Regions from separate parts of the Homo sapiens genome. Here all the other regions are linked to region 2. The links come from fine-mapping of genetic effects on gene expression. A gene starts in region 2. Each other region holds a variant in brackets. All regions are shown on one strand. Distances are from middle to middle.

Region 1 (5,000 bases), 62 kb before region 2:
AGGAAGTGATGTTATTTGGACAAAAGTAGGAAGCTCTCTGGGACGACTCCAGGATGACACTGTTTGGGGAGACTCAGGTCCCCAGTACTTTCCTGGTTGCCTGGTATCCTGAGCAAGGGCTCTGAAGAGATGACAAATCCCACTTACAATATTCTTGCTACTGACGCTGAGGGTCCGGCAGATGAAATCCAGGATTTCCTGCACAGGGACGGACACGGGAGCTCCAAACTCAGAGCTAAAGAGAATCAGAGCAGGGAGACCTTCAGAGCAGGCTCCCTGGCATAACTCCCACACCCACCTTCATCTCCTTTCTCCTGATGAAGGCGACACTCCCTCATCAATCCCTCCTGCTCCACGCCTCCGCTCCCTCCAATACCCACACACACCTGAGCATGAGCCCTAGGCAGCGGGCCAGTCCCGAAAACCTCTGCCGAAGCTGGAGAAGGACATGGGCATCACCATCTTCTGAGGACAGCAGCATCTCCACCCCAGGGCCTTCATTCTGCACAGGAGCTGGCAGAAGCACAACTACCCTGTACACTGTCTTTCTTCCATCCCCTCCTCTGTCATTTCTGGTGGACGACCTGCCTGTATTCTAACCCATTTTCCCCAAAAACCAACTGCCCCATGTCTCTGGGCTCCCCTCCTGTTCCTTCCTGCCACGCTTCCTCACTATTGTTCCACTAACTAGCAGCCCTGGTCCCTACCAGTCTCTGCTCCCTCGTACAGGGCCCCCAGCAGGGTGTGCAGTGAGGCCAGCAGACTGTGTAGCTCCTGCTCCCAGCTCTCGGTGTGCTTCAGGCCTTGGGAAAAGCCAGCCCCTAAAGAGGGCAGCCGGGAATAACACTCACAGGCCAACTGCGGGAGAAAGGACAGAAACCTGGTCAGATGGGAATCCAGCCCAGCCACAGAACCCCCAGCCCCACTGACACCCAAAAGAGATGGAGATCAGAGAGAGCTCTGAGGGAAACCTGAGATGGGACAATGAGGCCGAAGGACACAGATGGGCATATGAAGGCAGGACAGAAAAGCTAGAGGAGGAGCAGCAAGAGACAATCCAGGCTCAGATCCCCGGGCTCTCCCTCTCCCTCCCTGCCCTTTACCTGTTGGAGCTGAGGGCTCAAGGCATCCACCCTAGACAGAAAAAATGAGGCCAGCTTGCCCTGGATGTGGAGGAAAAAAGGAAGAGGCCAGTGAGCCAGCTCTGAGAGCCAGAGATGTACATCCCATCCGTTCCCAGCAGCAGACTCTAAGCCCAGGTCTCTTTTTCCTGTAGACACAAGAAGCAAAGCCCTCTATGGGGCATCAACACCGGGCACGGACATGCTTTCATGGTAAAAGACTCCTCAACGCCAGCTCTGGTCCTCGGCTTCCTGCTTGGGAGCGAAAAGGGCCTGGCCCTGTCCCAGAGACAGCTGGGCTTCCTCCTTGACAGTTTTTGCAAAATTTTTCCCTCAAGCCAAAAGGACATAGTACTAAAAAACAGTCTCCACACTCCAACTCTCTACCAGCTCACACACAAAAACGAGGGTCCAAGCTGGAAGTTAAGACACTAACCAGAGGTATGAGGGCAGGACAAGGTCAAAAAAGAAGGCTGCTAGAGCAGAAGTAAGGCAGCAAGTCTCGGAGTAGCAATCTGTCATTCGGCACTTTCTCTGCCTGCTGTGTGAAGGTGCTAGGGCAGGAGTGTTTAACCTGAGAACCACAATTTAGTTGGATATACAATCATAGGGGGCCTGTGATCATGGATGGGGAAAAAAATTACTCCCACTAGCCTATTTGTAAAATGTAGTGTTTCCTTCACTTATAAATGCAGACAAATAGCCACAGTAGTATCAGCAGTACCTGTGACTGTCACTAATAGAATCATTTTCATGTCACATTATA[A/C]TTGTAACACATCCTGAAATATCATTCACATGCATCACTAATTTGCAATTATAGTCGTTGTAAGACCTGCTTCTAGATCTTATTACTTAACATGTCAATAAAAAAGCACAGGCTGGGTGCAGTAGCTCACGCCTGTAATCCAGGCACTTTGGGAGGTCAAGGCAGGCGGATCACTTGAGCCAAGGAGTTTGAGACCAGTCTGGGCAACATGGAGAAACCCTATCTCTACTAAAAATACAAAAACTTAGCCGGGTGTGGTGGCGCATGCCTGTAGTCCCAGCTACTTGGGAGGCTGAGGTGGGAGGACCACCCAAGCCCAGAACCGAGATCATGCCAGTCAGTGTACTCTAGCCTGGGTGATGAGAGTGAGACCCTGTCTCAAAAAGAAAAAAAAAAAGGCCAGGCACGGTGGCTCATACCTGTAATCCCAGCACTTTGGGAGGCTGAGGTGAGCAGATCACGAGGTCAGGAGTTCAAGACCAGCCTGGCCAACATGGTGAAACCCCATCTCTACTAAAAGTACAAAAATTAGCTGGGCACAGTGGTGGGCACCTGTAATCCCAGCTACTTGGGAGGCTGAGGCAGGAGAATTGCTTGAACCCAGGAGGCGGAGGTTGCAGTGAGCCGAGATCACGCCACTGCACTCTAGCCTGGGTGACAGAGCAAGACTCTGTCTCAGAAAAAAAAAAGAATTAGTAAGGATAACAAGACAAGCATATGGAAAAACAAGAATCTGGAGCCAACACTGGCAACATACAGAGAAGGGGAAAGAGCAGGCTCACGCTTTCCCCGAGACATCCTAGTGGTGCACACCTGTAGTCCTAGCTACTTGGGAGACTGACGTGGGAGGATCACTTGAGCCCAGGAGTTCAAGGTTACAGTGAGCTACAATCTTAACACTGCACTCCTGGGTCACAGAGCGAGACCCTATCTCCAAAAACGGCTCAAAAAGCTGGACTGAAGCCAACAGAAGTCTGCTTATGTGACTGCAATAAAGCAGTGTACGGTGAAGCGACACGGCTCTAACCACAGGTTACCCTGGCTGACCCACAAAGCAAACCAAAGCAATGACTCGCTTGGAACAGTTCACTCAAAACGCGCACACACACAGCATGTCCTGGGGCTCTCTCAAGAGTAGGTCAGTCTTCCCACCCATTCCGAGGAACTGCTCATCAATGTGGCAAGGACGAGGAAGTGAGTTCAAGTCTCTGCAGGAATTGACCTCATGGACTCAGAATGCTTGATTCACATTACTTGGGAGTAGTAATCCTGAGCTTGGAGTCTACAATTACCCTGAGAGTATCCGGGGAATGTAACAGAAAACACAGACACTTCAAAACGGCAGTTATCAGTTTTCCTAAGTACTAGTCTGCGAGATTTTCCAAGTGCAAATTGCCCCTGGAGCCTCTGCATGACAGATTCTTATCTGAAGTGCTGGCAACCGACAAAGCCAAAACCCTCAACACCCTCAACAGAGGGAAGTTCTCCAGATGACCTTTTTTTTTTTTGAGACAGGGTCTCACTCTGTTACCCAGGCTAGAGTGCAGTGCCACGATCTCAGCTCACTGCACCCTCTGCCTCCCAGCTTCAGGGGATCTCCTGCCTCAATGTTCTAAGTAGCTGGAACCACAGGCACACACCACCACACCCAGCTAATTTTTTTGTATTTTTGGTAGAGGTAGGGTTTCACCATGTTGGCCAGGCTGATCTCAAACTCCTGGCAGATGGCACTTGATTCTTAGGGAAATAAAGGTAAGACACTCCCTGGAAGGACACAGGAACATTTGTTAGTTTGGAAAGGGTACTCAAAATGCAGGCCTTAAGTTCAACTGTCTGACAAAAGGTTGAGAATTACAGATAAATTCTCCTGACTACTCACACTGAAAATAAAAAAGCAACAGCAGAAGAACACTTAGCATTCTAGTCTCCTTAACTCTTACTATTCACACTTCTATCCTGTTAAGTAACACTCAATTTCCCCTCCACTTTCATGGGGGATGCAGGTAGATAAAGATAATACCTAACAGAGCTGAATCAAAATACACTTTTGCAGTAAAACCAAACCTTTGTTCAGGGACAAACTGCTGGCCTGTGTCATTTGAGAGGTTAACTTACAGAACATTTGACAAGATAACCAGTTTTTACTAAACTTAGTAAAACCTCAGTAAATAACCTCTGCTAATCTTTAATAAAATCGATGAGTCACTCCAAATACCTTCTTGACAAAATGTCCTGCCCTGCCTACCCAAAGATTCTATTAGCTGTGATTAGAGGCATTCACATGAAAAGAAGGAACCAGCAAGGACACAACCCCTCGCTCACTCAGAACTAGCATCTGCTCAGGCACTTTTCAGATACTGCGAGTAACCAGTTACTAACGACACTGCAGGCATCACTCCCTGATCACAGCGCTCAGGCCGATGGAACTCTGACTCACAGTCCTTCCCAGGCCAGCGAGCTACACAGCCACTAACAATTGACTAGAGCTGCTACCTGCCCTGGTTTTACAATTACCAGATAATATAACCTTTGGTTACGTCACTTAAGTCCCTCTCAGCTGGTTTTCTCCTCTGTAAAATGCAGTGATACAAATTCCACAGAATAATTACAATGATAAAATGACACAACACATCTTAGACACTCAGGAGAGTGAATGGCACAGTGGGCACCCACTAAAGACCAGTTCCCTTTCCCTCCAAGAACTTACTTTCTTGCTTTGGTCACAGAACCACATTAATCTCATTTTCTTTCTTTTTTTGGAGACAGAGTCTCACTCTGTCACCCAGGCTGGAGTACAGTGGTGCGATCTCGGCTCATGGCAACCTCCGCCTCCTGGGTCCAAGCAATTCTCCTGCCTCGGCCTCCCAAGTAACTGGGACTACAGGCACACACCGCCACGCCTGGCTAATTTTTTGTATTTTAGTAGAGGCGAGGTTTCACTGTGTTGCCCAGGCTGGTCTCAAACTCCTGAGCTCATGCAATCTGCCCGCCTTGGCCTCTCAAAGTGCTGGGATTACAGGCATGAGCCACCACGCCCAGCCTCATAATCTCACTTTCAAGACAACCTGAATAGCAAACTCCCCCTTAACTAACAATACTAATGGCAAATACAG
Region 2 (6,476 bases):
GGGACAAGGAAGTGAGCGAACCACGAGACAAGTGGGTGTCATGAACTGGGAAATCAGAAGACCAGGGTTGGATTCCAAGCTCTGCTGTAAAGTAGCTGTGTAACCTCAAGTAGCTGTGTAACCTCACCCCTTGTCCCTAACCTCTCCGGAAGTGATATCTTCCAGCTGTAAAATGAGGATAATTGTAGTACCAAGGGCCAGGGTTCCTGGGAGGATGAAAGGAAATCATAGAGGTCTAGGCAGACTTAAAGGCAGTATGGATGACACAGATCCTACAAAACTTTAGCTAGGACATGGAAGAACCTTTTGTATTTTAATGGTTGTATATTTATTTTAAGAGAAAAATATAACCAATGCATCAAACTTGTGACTTCACAGATATTATTGCTTAGGATAATTTACTATTTAAGTTTTCTTTCTTTTTTTTTGTTGCCCAGGCTGGAGTGCAATGGCCTGATCTCGGCTCACTGCAACCTCCGCCTCCAGGTTCAAGTGATTCTCCTGCCTCAACCTCCTGAGTAGCTGGAATTACAGGCACATGCCACCATGCCTGGCTAATTTTGTATTTTTAGTAGAGATGGGGTTTTACCATGTTGGTCAGGCTGGTCTCAAACTCCTGACCTCAGGTGATCCACCGGCCTCAACCTCCCAAAGAGCTAGGATTACAGGAGTGAGCCACCGTCCTGGCCTCTACTTAAGTTTTCAAAACTAGTTTGTGCACACTTAAAAGTAATTCATTTCATTGTATGTAAATTTGAACTCAAAAGAAAAAAAAGCATTAAAATATTGAACTCTACTTAATATACATGCTGAAATGTCTTGGGATGAAGTGCAATGATGTCCACAATCTGCCTTGAAATGCATCAAGAGGCCGGGCACTGCGGTTCACACCTGTAATCCCAGCACTTTGGGAGGCTGAGGCAGGTGGATCACCTGAGGTCAGGAGTTTGAGACCAGCCTGACCAACACGGTGAAACCCCATCTCTACTAAAAAAATACAAAAATTAGCTGGGCATGGTGGCGGGCACCTGCAATCCCAGCTACTCGGAAGGCTGTGGCAGGAGAATTGCTTGAACCTGGGAGGCGGAGGCTGCAGTGAGCTGAGGGCACCATTGCACTCCAGCCTGGGCGACAGAGCAAGACTCCATTAAAAAAAAAAAAAAAAAAAAAAAAGAAATGCATCAAGAAATAAGGTGATGGATGATGGATAGAAGAATGAATAGATGGATACTTAATAAAGCAAATATCGTGTAATTGCTGTAAAATTGATAGTGTAAAATATATGTTTATGTAAATATGTAAAATATACATATATAAATAAAATTGTAGAATCTAGGTGGAGGCACTGGATATTCAGTGTGCCATTCTTTCAACTTTTGTATATGTGTAAATTTTCATAATAAAATATTGGAAAAGAAAAATAGGCCAGGTGTGGTGGCTCACGCCTGTAATCCTAGCACTTTTGGAGGCCGAGGCGGGTGGATCACAAGGCCAGGAGTTCGAGACCAGCCTGGCCAACATGGTGAAACCCTGTCTCTACTAAAAATACAAAAATTAGCCAGGCTTGGTGGTGCGCGCCTGTAATCCCAGCTACTCAGGAGGCTGAGGCAGGAGAATCTCTTGAACCTGGGAGGCAGAGGTTGCAGTGAGCCAAGATCGTGCCACTGCACTCCAGCCTGGGTGACAGAGTGAGACTCCATCTCAAAAAAATAAAATAAAATAGTACTTTGATTTCAAGAAAAATATTAATAAGTAGACAATAGCACACGTGGTAGAATGAATTGGCAAAACTCATGAAGGTGATGGTGAATGATCACCCCGTTTGGCAAACAGGGACTCGAGTCTAAGTACTTTGGACAGGATCAGAAGAAGGTTCTAGGAATGTGCGGCCCCAGGGGAAAAGGCTCAGGTAAAGAAAACTGTCAGGTGGAAGCTGCTAAGCCCTGGAGGCAGAGCCTGAAGAGCAGTGGAAAAGTCTCACCTTTGAGATCAAGACAGCTCATCAATTCCTGAACCCATGGGTCCTTGTTGCCCCCACACACGCTCCAGGAAAGGAGCTGGAACCTGCGGAGGAGAGACCTGGGCTTAGCTGCGGCGCCTTCTTTCCTTCCCCGGCTCCTTCCTCATTCCAGAGGCGTGAAGTTGCCACCAAGAAAGAGCCCTTTCTCCTGGGACTGGGAAACTCCCCAGTAGGTGAGACGGAGTCATGAAGTTTCGGGGAATGAGAGCAAACGGAACCCGGAGATGGGGCTCGGTGAGCCGGGAAGGAGTTCAGGCTGGACCAGAGAGGGTCCTGGAGGCACCTGCAAGGAGGGGCCGCCCAGGCGCTGCCCTCGCAGAGGCAGGTAAAATTACCTCGTGTAGTATAGACACCGATGGTAAGCTCTCAGGTGTTTCCGGAGACGATTCATGAACTGAACCGATGGCGGGGAGTCGGAAGAAATTCTTTTACCACAATAACAACTTCCAGTGACGCTGCCCTCGTTGCCATTGCCTGCGCGGGACGGAGGTGGTCGGCACCCATTCCCAGGCCCAGGGTCCCCACTCCGCTGTTCCCTGGCATCCAATCCACAGCCCCATGACAGCCTCTCGGTGGACCCAGGGTCAGAGCGCCAGGCTCAACCCACACATCATCACGCCCCCGACAACATCCATAATCCCGCCCGGAGCCAGGCGTCCCCGGGCCTCTGTCCCCAACCCCAGGCGGCTGGCTGGCTTTCCTCTTGTCCCCGCTGCCTTCATCCACTCAACTCCGTGGGCCTCGTGTCCCCTCCCCAACTCACCCCCTTCCCGTGACAGGGGAATCTGGGTCCCCTGCCCCGCCCCCGGCTAACCTGGCTGAGTCAGGTACACCAGCAGGAGCAGAAGCAGGAGCAGGAGCACGCGGGACCCGGGCCGCAAGTCCCGTCCCATCTCGGGGCTCCGCGGACTCTGCGGGGATGGAGCCACCTCGCTCTGACTCCCAGACATGCTCCGGCGCGTGACGTCCAGCTGGTGTCTCAATGGCTTTCGCCGGGGACCGGAGGAGACGGCGGCCGGAGAGGAGGCGCGAGCCAGCTGCACCCCCCGGCCCTGCTGTGCCCCGACCGTGCGCTCAGTACTCGGCCCGCGCCATGCCAGCCTCTGGACGCAGGGAAAGCCGAGGAGGTGGAGCTCCCGCGCCCTGCGCCCCCGCACTGGGCCCGGCTCCGTCGAGGGAAGGCCAGGAATCTTGGAAGAAACCGAAAGAAAACTCCGGCGGCGGGCGAGGAGGGGCGGGAGGACGACGGCCCGAGGAGCCGATTCGGTTCGGTTCAGGAGGCCGCCCGCCTGGCCCGTCCGCCGACCTGTGAGGCGGCTGCACTGCCGGACCGGCCCTCCTCCTCCGAGGCACTTTCACTTCCCCGATCCGGGCGCCGCGGGACCCAGCCGCGCTGCATGAGCCTCCCGGGCGGCCCGGTGGAGAGAGTCGCCGCCAGCCCCGGCCGCGCGCACCTGCGGGGCAGCCACCCGCGGACGCACCGAGCCCGGGGGGCGTGGCCGCCCGCTGAGCCGGCGAGGGCTCGGGCAGCCCTGACGTCACAACCGCACCCGCGCACCCTCCACCGCGAGGTATTTACCTTCGAAAAGTGGTGGCGGCTGCAGGTACCGGAGGAGTGGGGCGGCCGGGAGGGGCTAGGTCTACCGGGGCTGCCCGCCACGCAGATCCGAGCCCAGGGAACCCCCTCGCTCCCACTCCCATACCCCACAGACGCATCCAAAATGCTTCCCTCCCCACCAAACCGTTCCCGATAGGATTAGCCCTCTCTCCTCTCTAGCCTTAATTTAAACTCTGCTTTTGAGGGTGTGAACTCTCCAATTTTAAGCCCCAAATACCATCTCATCCCTGAGTAGTCTTCTCCAACCCTGGTCACCCACTTTCAAGTCCAGCCCCCATTTTCCTCCCTAAACTCCCATCCTCAGCCCTGAAAAATCCTCTTCTCCGCTCCTAGCATATCCACGGATCCAACCCTAAGTGACTCTCAAACCTACCCTCTCCCTCAATTTGTGACCCAGCCCCAAACTCCATCATTGCTCTCCTGTCCCTCACCATATATCCCTTCTTTTGCTCAGTCTGGGCCGGGGCCCTGTGCCGCTGAAGACATGGAGTTTGTGTCTGGATACCGGGATGAGTTCCTTGATTTCACTGCCCTTCTCTTCGGCTGGTTCCGAAAGTTTGTGGCAGAGCGTGGAGCTGTAGGGACTAGCCTTGAGGGCCGCTGCCGGCAGCTGGAGGCCCAGATCAGAAGGCTACCCCAGGACCCTGCCCTTTGGGTGCTCCATGTCCTGCCCAACCATAGTGTGGGCATCAGCCTGGGGCAAGGGGCAGAACCAGGTCCTGGACCAGGCCTGGGGACTGCCTGGCTCCTGGGAGACAACCCTCCACTCCACCTGCGAGACCTGAGCCCCTACATCAGCTTTGTCAGCCTAGAGGATGGGGAGGAAGGGGAGGAGGAAGAGGAGGAAGATGAAGAAGAAGAGAAGAGAGAGGACGGGGGTGCAGGCAGCACAGAGAAGGTGGAACCAGAGGAGGACCGGGAGCTAGCCCCTACCAGCAGGGAGTCCCCCCAGGAAACAAACCCTCCAGGAGAGTCAGAGGAGGCTGCCCGGGAGGCAGGAGGTGGCAAGGATGGCTGCCGAGAGGACAGGGTGGAGAACGAAACAAGACCCCAGAAGAGGAAGGGACAGAGGAGTGGTAAGAACCCAGGGCTGGCCCTGCCCTACCCCTTGCCCAGCCATCCTCCCTTCGGAAGCCCTCCCCTGCCACTAGTTCTGAGTGCTGGCCTTCAGGCCAATCTGGCCTGAAAAGGTGTTTTTATTGACCCACAGTGGGGTTTTTTTTTTTAATTTAATGTTTAAACATTGCAAGAAAAAAAGTATCCAGAAGTCTGGATTTACACATTCCCAAGAAAAATCTCAAGCTCTGACAGTGGGCCTACATTTCTGCATGGCAGCGCATTCTGGTCCTCTGTAGCAGCTGTCCCCTTTAGAAGGAGCGTGCCCTCTCTACCCAGAGCCCTTTACTCAGTGAGGTTACTTGCCTAGCCCCGTAGGTATTTGAGTTTGGTACTCCTGACCCTGACCACATTTGTCTCTCGCTGCCCCCTACCACCTCAACTTTTCCCTCTTTCCCCAGAGGCTGCCCCCCTGCACGTTTCCTGTCTCTTACTTGTGACGGATGAGCATGGCACCATCTTGGGCATTGATCTGCTAGTGGATGGAGCCCAGGGAACCGCAAGCTGGGGCTCAGGGACCAAGGACCTGGCTCCTTGGGCCTATGCTCTCCTCTGTCACAGCATGGCCTGTCCCATGGGCTCTGGGGATCCCCGAAAGCCCCGACAGCTTACTGTGGGAGATGCCCGGCTGCATCGGTATAGAAATCTGGTATCTGAGGCTGGGGAGGACTCGGGCCCTGGATTCCCAAGCACCTCCTCCAGCCTGATGCCATCTCCCCCCCAACTGCATTTAGAGAGCTGGAGAGCTTGGTCCCAAGGCTAGGTGTGAAGTTAGCCAAAACCCCAATGCGGACATGGGGTCCCCGGCCAGGCTTCACCTTTGCTTCCCTTCGTGCTCGAACCTGCCATGTGTGTCACAGGCACAGCTTTGAAGCGAAGCTGACACCTTGGTGAGCAGCCCCAAAGCTGGGGGAGAGGAAGACCCCAATAGGCAAATAGAAGGAAGGCAGGGTGGTGGGGGGCGCCTAGCAGACAGAAGGAGAGGCAGGGACATGAGAAGATGCAGAGGAAACAATACAGACTGTTACAGGCGGTTAGAGGGTGTAAGACAAACAGACCGAGTGACATATGGGCAGCTGCTGGGCAGTTGAACAGCAGACAGGACCTACAGAGGTTAACACTAGGTGCCCACCACCCGCTGTGTCCCCAGCCCCCAGTGTAGTGCTGTCTTGTATTGTGGAGAGGCTTGTCTCCGGGCTGACTGGCAGCGGTGCCCAGATGATGTGAGTCACCGATTTTGGTGCCCAAGGCTTGCAGCCTTCATGGAGCGGGCAGGAGAACTGGCAACCCTGCCTTTTACCTACACCGCAGGTACCATAAGGAGGTCAGAATGGTTGGGGGAAACTGGGACCAGGTCTTTGAGACTGGGAATTAGATGTCTGGGAACAGGGTCCTGCAGTTGAAGGCTGAGTGTCTGGGGCTAGAGCCTAGATCCCTGGAACAAGGGCAGGGGCTGGGTGTTTGGGGCTGGAGACAGGGTCTCTGAAGCCGAGGCCTGAGTGTCTGGGTCCCTGAGAGCGTGCAGGGATTGGGGGACAGGGATTCAAACACTTACTTGCTTCCCAGCTCCACCACTAACTGCAGTGTGACCTTAAACAAACCACTTTACTTCTTGAAGCTTCCGTGTCCTCATGAGGGATACGGAGAAGGCCCATGGAATTGTTACAAGGATTATCTTGGCTTGGTGCCTGGTACGCTGGAGGCACTCAGAAATGGTAGTTC
Region 3 (5,000 bases), 44 kb before region 2:
GCACTGCAATACCGCCACAGTGGATCTGATCACCGAGATGGTTACAAGATGACCCTCAGGCAGGGAGCATGTGCAACATGGATACACTGGACAAAAGGATGATTCATGTCCGATTCACGTCCCAGGTAGGATGAAGCAGAACTCCTCGAGAGTCCATCACGCTGCTCAGAATGGCACGTAATTTAAAACTTATGAATTACTTATTTCTGGAATTTTCCACCTAATATTTTCAGACCACGGTTGACCACAGGTAAGTAAAACCATGGAAAGGGAAAGCACAGATAAGAGGGGACTATTGCATAAAAGGCCATAAATAGGAATGAAGTTTTAGCCGGGCACAATGGCACCCGCCTGTAGTCCCAGCTACTTGGGAGGCTGAGGCATAAGAATCACTTGACTAATCCTGAGAGTTTGAATCCAGCCTAGGCAACACAAGACCCAACACAGCAAAACAGAAAAGAGTAATAAAGTCTTGACACATGGATGAACCTTGAAAACTGACTGCTAAGTGAAAGAAGCCAAACCCAAAGGCTACATATTATACAATTCATTTCTATCAAATGGCCAGAATAGGCAAATCTCTAAAGAAAAAAAGTAGATTACTGTTTGCCTAAAGCTGGAGGCAGCCAGGGAGGGCTTGGTGGGCAATGGGAATGACTGTAAGTGGGTACAGAATTTCTTTATGGAGTGATGAAAATGTTCCAAAACTGAGCACAGCAATGACCGCACAACTCTGCAAATATACTAAATCCACGGAATTGTATACTCTAAGTGAGTGAACTGTGGCCGGGCGCAGTGGCTCATGCCTATAATCCCAGTACTTTGGGAGGCCAAGGTGGGCAGACCACCTGAGGTCAGGGGTTTGAGACCAGCCTGGCCAACATGGTGAAACGCCATCTCTACCAAAAATACAAAAAAAAAAAAATCAGCCAGGCGTGGTGGCAGGCGCCTGTAATCCCAGCTACTCCAAAGGCTGAGGCAGGAGAACCGCTTGAGAACGGGAGGCGGAGGTCGCAATGAGCCAAGATCGTGACACTGCACTCCAGCCTGGGTGACAGAATGAGACTCCACCTCAAAAAAAATAAAATAAAATAAAAATAAAATGGGCCGGGCGCGGTGGCTTACGCCTGTAATGCCAGCACTTTGGGGGGCCGAGGCAGGTGGATCATGAGGTCAGGAGTTCAAGACCAGCCTGGCCAACATGGTGAAACCCCGGCTCTACTAAAAATACAAAAATTAGCCAGGCGTGGTGGTGGGCGCCTGTAATCCCAGCTACTCGGGAGGCTAAGGAAGGAGAATCGCTTGAACCTGAGAGAATCGCTTGAACCCGGGAGAATCGCTTGAACCCGGGAGAATCGCTTGAACCCAGGATGCAGAAATTGCAGTTTGCCAAGATTGCACCACTGTACTCCAGCCTGGGTGACAATGTGAGACTCCATTTCGAAAAAAATAAAAGGCCAGGCACCGTGGCTCATGCCTGTAATTCCAGCACTTTGGGCAGCCGAAGCGGGTGGATCACGAGGTCAGGAGTTTGAGACCAGCCTGGCCAACATGATGAAAACCCGTCTCTACTGAAAAATACAAAAATTAGCCGGACATGGTGGCGGGCGCCCGTAATCCCAACTACTAGGGAGGCTGAGGCAGGAGAATCGCTTGAACCCGGGAGGCAGAGGTCGCAGTGAGCCGAGATCACGCCACTGCACTCCAGCCTCGGCAACAGAGTGAGACTCCGTCTGGAAAAAATAAATAAATAAAATGGCTAAATTGTATGGTTTGTGAATTATTTCTCAATAAAGCTGTTTTGGCCAGGCACGGTGGCCTATAATCCCAAAATTCTGGGAAACCAAGGCAGGCGAATCACTTGAGGCCAGGAGTTCCATACCAGCCTGGGCAACACAGAGAGACACCATCTCTACAAAAATTTTTAAAAATTAGCCAGGTGCAATGGCATGCACCTGCAGTCCCAGCTACTCGGGAGGCTGAGGCAGAAGGATCGCTTGAATCCAGGCGTTCAAGGCTGCAGTGAGCTATGAACACACTACTATACTCCAGCCTGGGCAAAAGAGTGAGACCCTCTCTCTTAAAAAAAAAAAAAAAAAAAAAAAAAATCTGGCAGGGGGCAGTGATTCACGCCTGTAATCCCAGCACTTGGGGAGGCCAAGGTGGGCAGATCATTTGAGGTTAGGAGTTTGAGAACAGCCTTGCCAACGTGGCGAAACTAAACATCTAAAAATCTACTAAAAATACAAAAATTAGCCAGACGTGGTGGTGTGGTTTCACCATATTGGTCAGGCTGGTCTCCAACTCCTGACCTCAGGTGATCCGCCCACCTTGGCCTCCGAAAGTGCTGGGATTACAGGAGTGAACCACCATGAACCCCCGCAGTAAAGCTGTTTTTATAAAAAGGCATACTGATAACCATAAAAAAAAGAGTGTTCCAGGAAAA[GAA/G]AAAAAAAAAAAACAGGCTGGGCAAGGGGCTCATGACTGTAATCCCAACACTGGGAGGCCAAGGCAGGAGGATGGCTTGAGCCCAGGAGGTCAAGATCAGCCTGTGCAACCGAGGGAGACCCCCATTCTCCACAAAGAATTTTTAAAAATTAGCCGAACATGGTGGAGGGCACCTGTGGTCACAGCTACTTGGGAGGCTAAGGTGGGAGGGCTGCTTGACCCCGGGAGGTCAAGACTGCAGTGAGCCATGATCGCCACCACTACACTCCAGCCTGAACAGCAAAGCAACATCCTGTCTCAAAAAAGAAAAATAAAAAGAGCGAAGACTATGAGATGAGAGCATACTTCGTTATTTCCAAAGAACAACAAGGAGACAAATTGTTGATGGAGAAAAGTGAGCAAGGTGGAGAGGAGTAACCAATGATGAAGGTTAAGGGAGTGGGACCAGACTGTGCAGAGACATATAGGTGATTACCGACTTTCACCCTGAGTAAGATAAAAGCCACGAGGGGGAGAGAGAAATTGCGCACAGGAGTGACAATATCTGACTTCTGGTTTGCTTTTTGTTTTGCTTTGTTTTTAATCAACAGCATTTGTGTTGTCTTGTTGAGAAGGCAGAAGCAAACAGATGAGGTAGAAGGTTACTGTAATATTCCAGACAAATGATGATGCAGCTTGAAGAATGTGGTAACTGTGGCGATACAAAGCAGTCAAAATCAGGAAGTACTGTGAAGGTAGAGCCAACGGGATGTGCCGTCAAACTGGATATGGGTGGAAAATAAAAAGAAGGGTCCAAGATAATGCCAAGGTTTTTTGCTGAACAACTAGAAAGATGAAGCTGCCATTCACCGAGAAGGGAACTAATGCAGGAGGAGCAGGTTTTGGGGTGACAATAGGGAGCTCAGTTTCAGATCTGTTCAATCTGTGATGTGTATTTAACATGAAAACGGAGATGCCAAATAGGCACCGGCTAGACAAGTGTGAAGAGAACTTCTGGCTGGAGATGTAAACTCAAGAGGTGTGGGCCTTGAGACTGGATCAGTTCACCAAGGGAATAAGAGTAAAGAGAAGAGAAACAGTGCAAGGCCTGGGTTGTAGGCACTCAAACCTTCAGAGGTCACAGAGGTGAGGAGGGATCAGTCTTTACTGGAAAGGAGTAACCAGTGTGATAACAGGAGAATCGAGAGGAGAGGAGAGGGGCTGGGAGGGTGACTAACGCCTATAATCCCAGTACTTTAGGAGGCTAAAGTGGGAAGACTGCTTGAGCTCAAGAGTTCAAGACCAGCCTCAGCAACATAGCGAGACCTTGTTTCTACTAAAAATCAAACAGATTAGCTGGGTGTGGGGGCACACACCTGTGGTCCCAGCTACCCAGAAGGCTGAGCAGGGCGGACTGCCTCAGCCTGGAAGATCAAGGATGCAGTAAGCTATGATCGCGCCACTGCACTCCAGCCTGGGCAACACAGCGAGACCCTGTCTCAATGAAACAAACAAACAAAAACAAAAAGACAGGGGAGAGATATCCCAGAAGTCAAGTGAAGACAGTTTTTTAAATAGGAAAGTATAATTAACTGTATCAAATGGTAGCGATAAGTCAAATATGATGACCCAAATTGACCTTTGAACTTAATGTCTTGATGGACACCAGTGATCTTCAAGAGTTACCATTTCACCCAGCAAAGGGTTGTTTCGGCAGCATTTAGGCTAAAAGCCTGAATGTAATGAGTTCAACGGAACAACCATCATAGTAATAATTCATTCAGGGAAGAACCTTTAATAGATGTTAAAATGAGTGGGTGAAAGGTTGACAAGACCTAAGACATTCACATTATCTCCCCCCAAGACACTTAACTACAAATGGAAAAAAAAAAAATCATACCTTTATAACAGTGAAGAAATCTGGCAGAGACCTGCTTAACCTAGAATACGTGCTCCTGATGTGATGCACCAAGAATGACACATCATTTCTGCAAGGTTTTTTTTTTTTTTTTTTGTAGAGATAGGGTCTTGCCATGTTGCCCAAGCTAGTCTTGAACTCCTGCACTCAGTGATCCTCCCACTTCGGCCTCCCACTAAGCCTCTGAATCTCATGCTGGGATAACAGGCATGAGCCACTGCACCTGGACGACTTCTGCAGTATTCTTGCTGAAAACGCACAAATCTCCAGTTTAATTTGTCTGCTGTTTCCTCATGATTAGATCCTAACCTGAGGGGCATCCTACGAAATAACTATTCTGTACTCTTTAAAAATATCAAGATCATAAGACAAAGGCTGAAGAACTATTTCAGATTAAAGAATACTAAAGAGACATTATAACTAAAAGCAAGCTGGGCGCGGTGGCTCACGCCAGCACTTCGGGAGGACAACGCGGGTGGATGATCTGAGGTCAGGAGTTCGAGACCAGCCTGGCCAACATGGCGAAACCCCATCGCTACTAAAAAAAAAAAAAGAAAAAAAATTAGCCAGGCATGGTAGCAGGCGCTTGTAATCCCAGCTACTTGGGAGGCTGAGGCAGGAGAATCGCTTAAACCCAGGGGGCGGAGGTTCCAGT

What was found. PIP is the estimated chance that this variant, and not a neighbour inherited with it, causes the effect. A credible set is the group of variants that fine-mapping cannot tell apart.
Region 1: its variant is the best candidate, but not a certain one, in a credible set for the expression of ZMYND15 in whole blood (INTERVAL, PIP 0.78).
Region 3: its variant is the best candidate, but not a certain one, in a credible set for the expression of ZMYND15 in whole blood (INTERVAL, PIP 0.64).

Annotation. Positions count from the first base shown.
Region 1 is chr17:4,675,650-4,680,649 of GRCh38, forward strand. It overlaps PELP1 (proline, glutamate and leucine rich protein 1), which reads right to left. Exons shown (of 17, transcript NM_014389.3): 6 at 1,104-1,163; 7 at 708-858; 8 at 387-513; 9 at 148-235. Among named protein-coding and RNA genes, the nearest start is that of PELP1, 26 kb to the right of the region's middle. The variant A/C (reference allele first, on the strand shown) is at 1,888.
Region 2 is chr17:4,736,427-4,742,902 of GRCh38, forward strand. It overlaps ZMYND15 (zinc finger MYND-type containing 15), which reads left to right and starts at 3,407. Exons shown (of 14, transcript NM_001136046.3): 1 at 3,407-3,624; 2 at 4,093-4,714; 3 at 5,156-5,390; 4 at 5,489-5,644; 5 at 5,905-6,065. The coding sequence starts at 4,123. It overlaps CXCL16 (C-X-C motif chemokine ligand 16), which reads right to left and starts at 3,502. Exons shown (of 6, transcript NM_001386809.1): 1 at 2,835-3,502; 2 at 2,356-2,494; 3 at 1,982-2,064. The coding sequence starts at 2,913. RefSeq lists enhancers at 2,015-2,920, 2,921-3,825 and a silencer at 3,374-3,593.
Region 3 is chr17:4,693,586-4,698,585 of GRCh38, forward strand. All of the region lies in intron 1 of PELP1 (proline, glutamate and leucine rich protein 1), which reads right to left. Among named protein-coding and RNA genes, the nearest start is that of PELP1, 8.1 kb to the right of the region's middle. RefSeq lists enhancers at 1,628-1,797, 2,991-3,060, 3,690-3,859, 4,768-4,937. The variant GAA/G (reference allele first, on the strand shown) is at 2,447.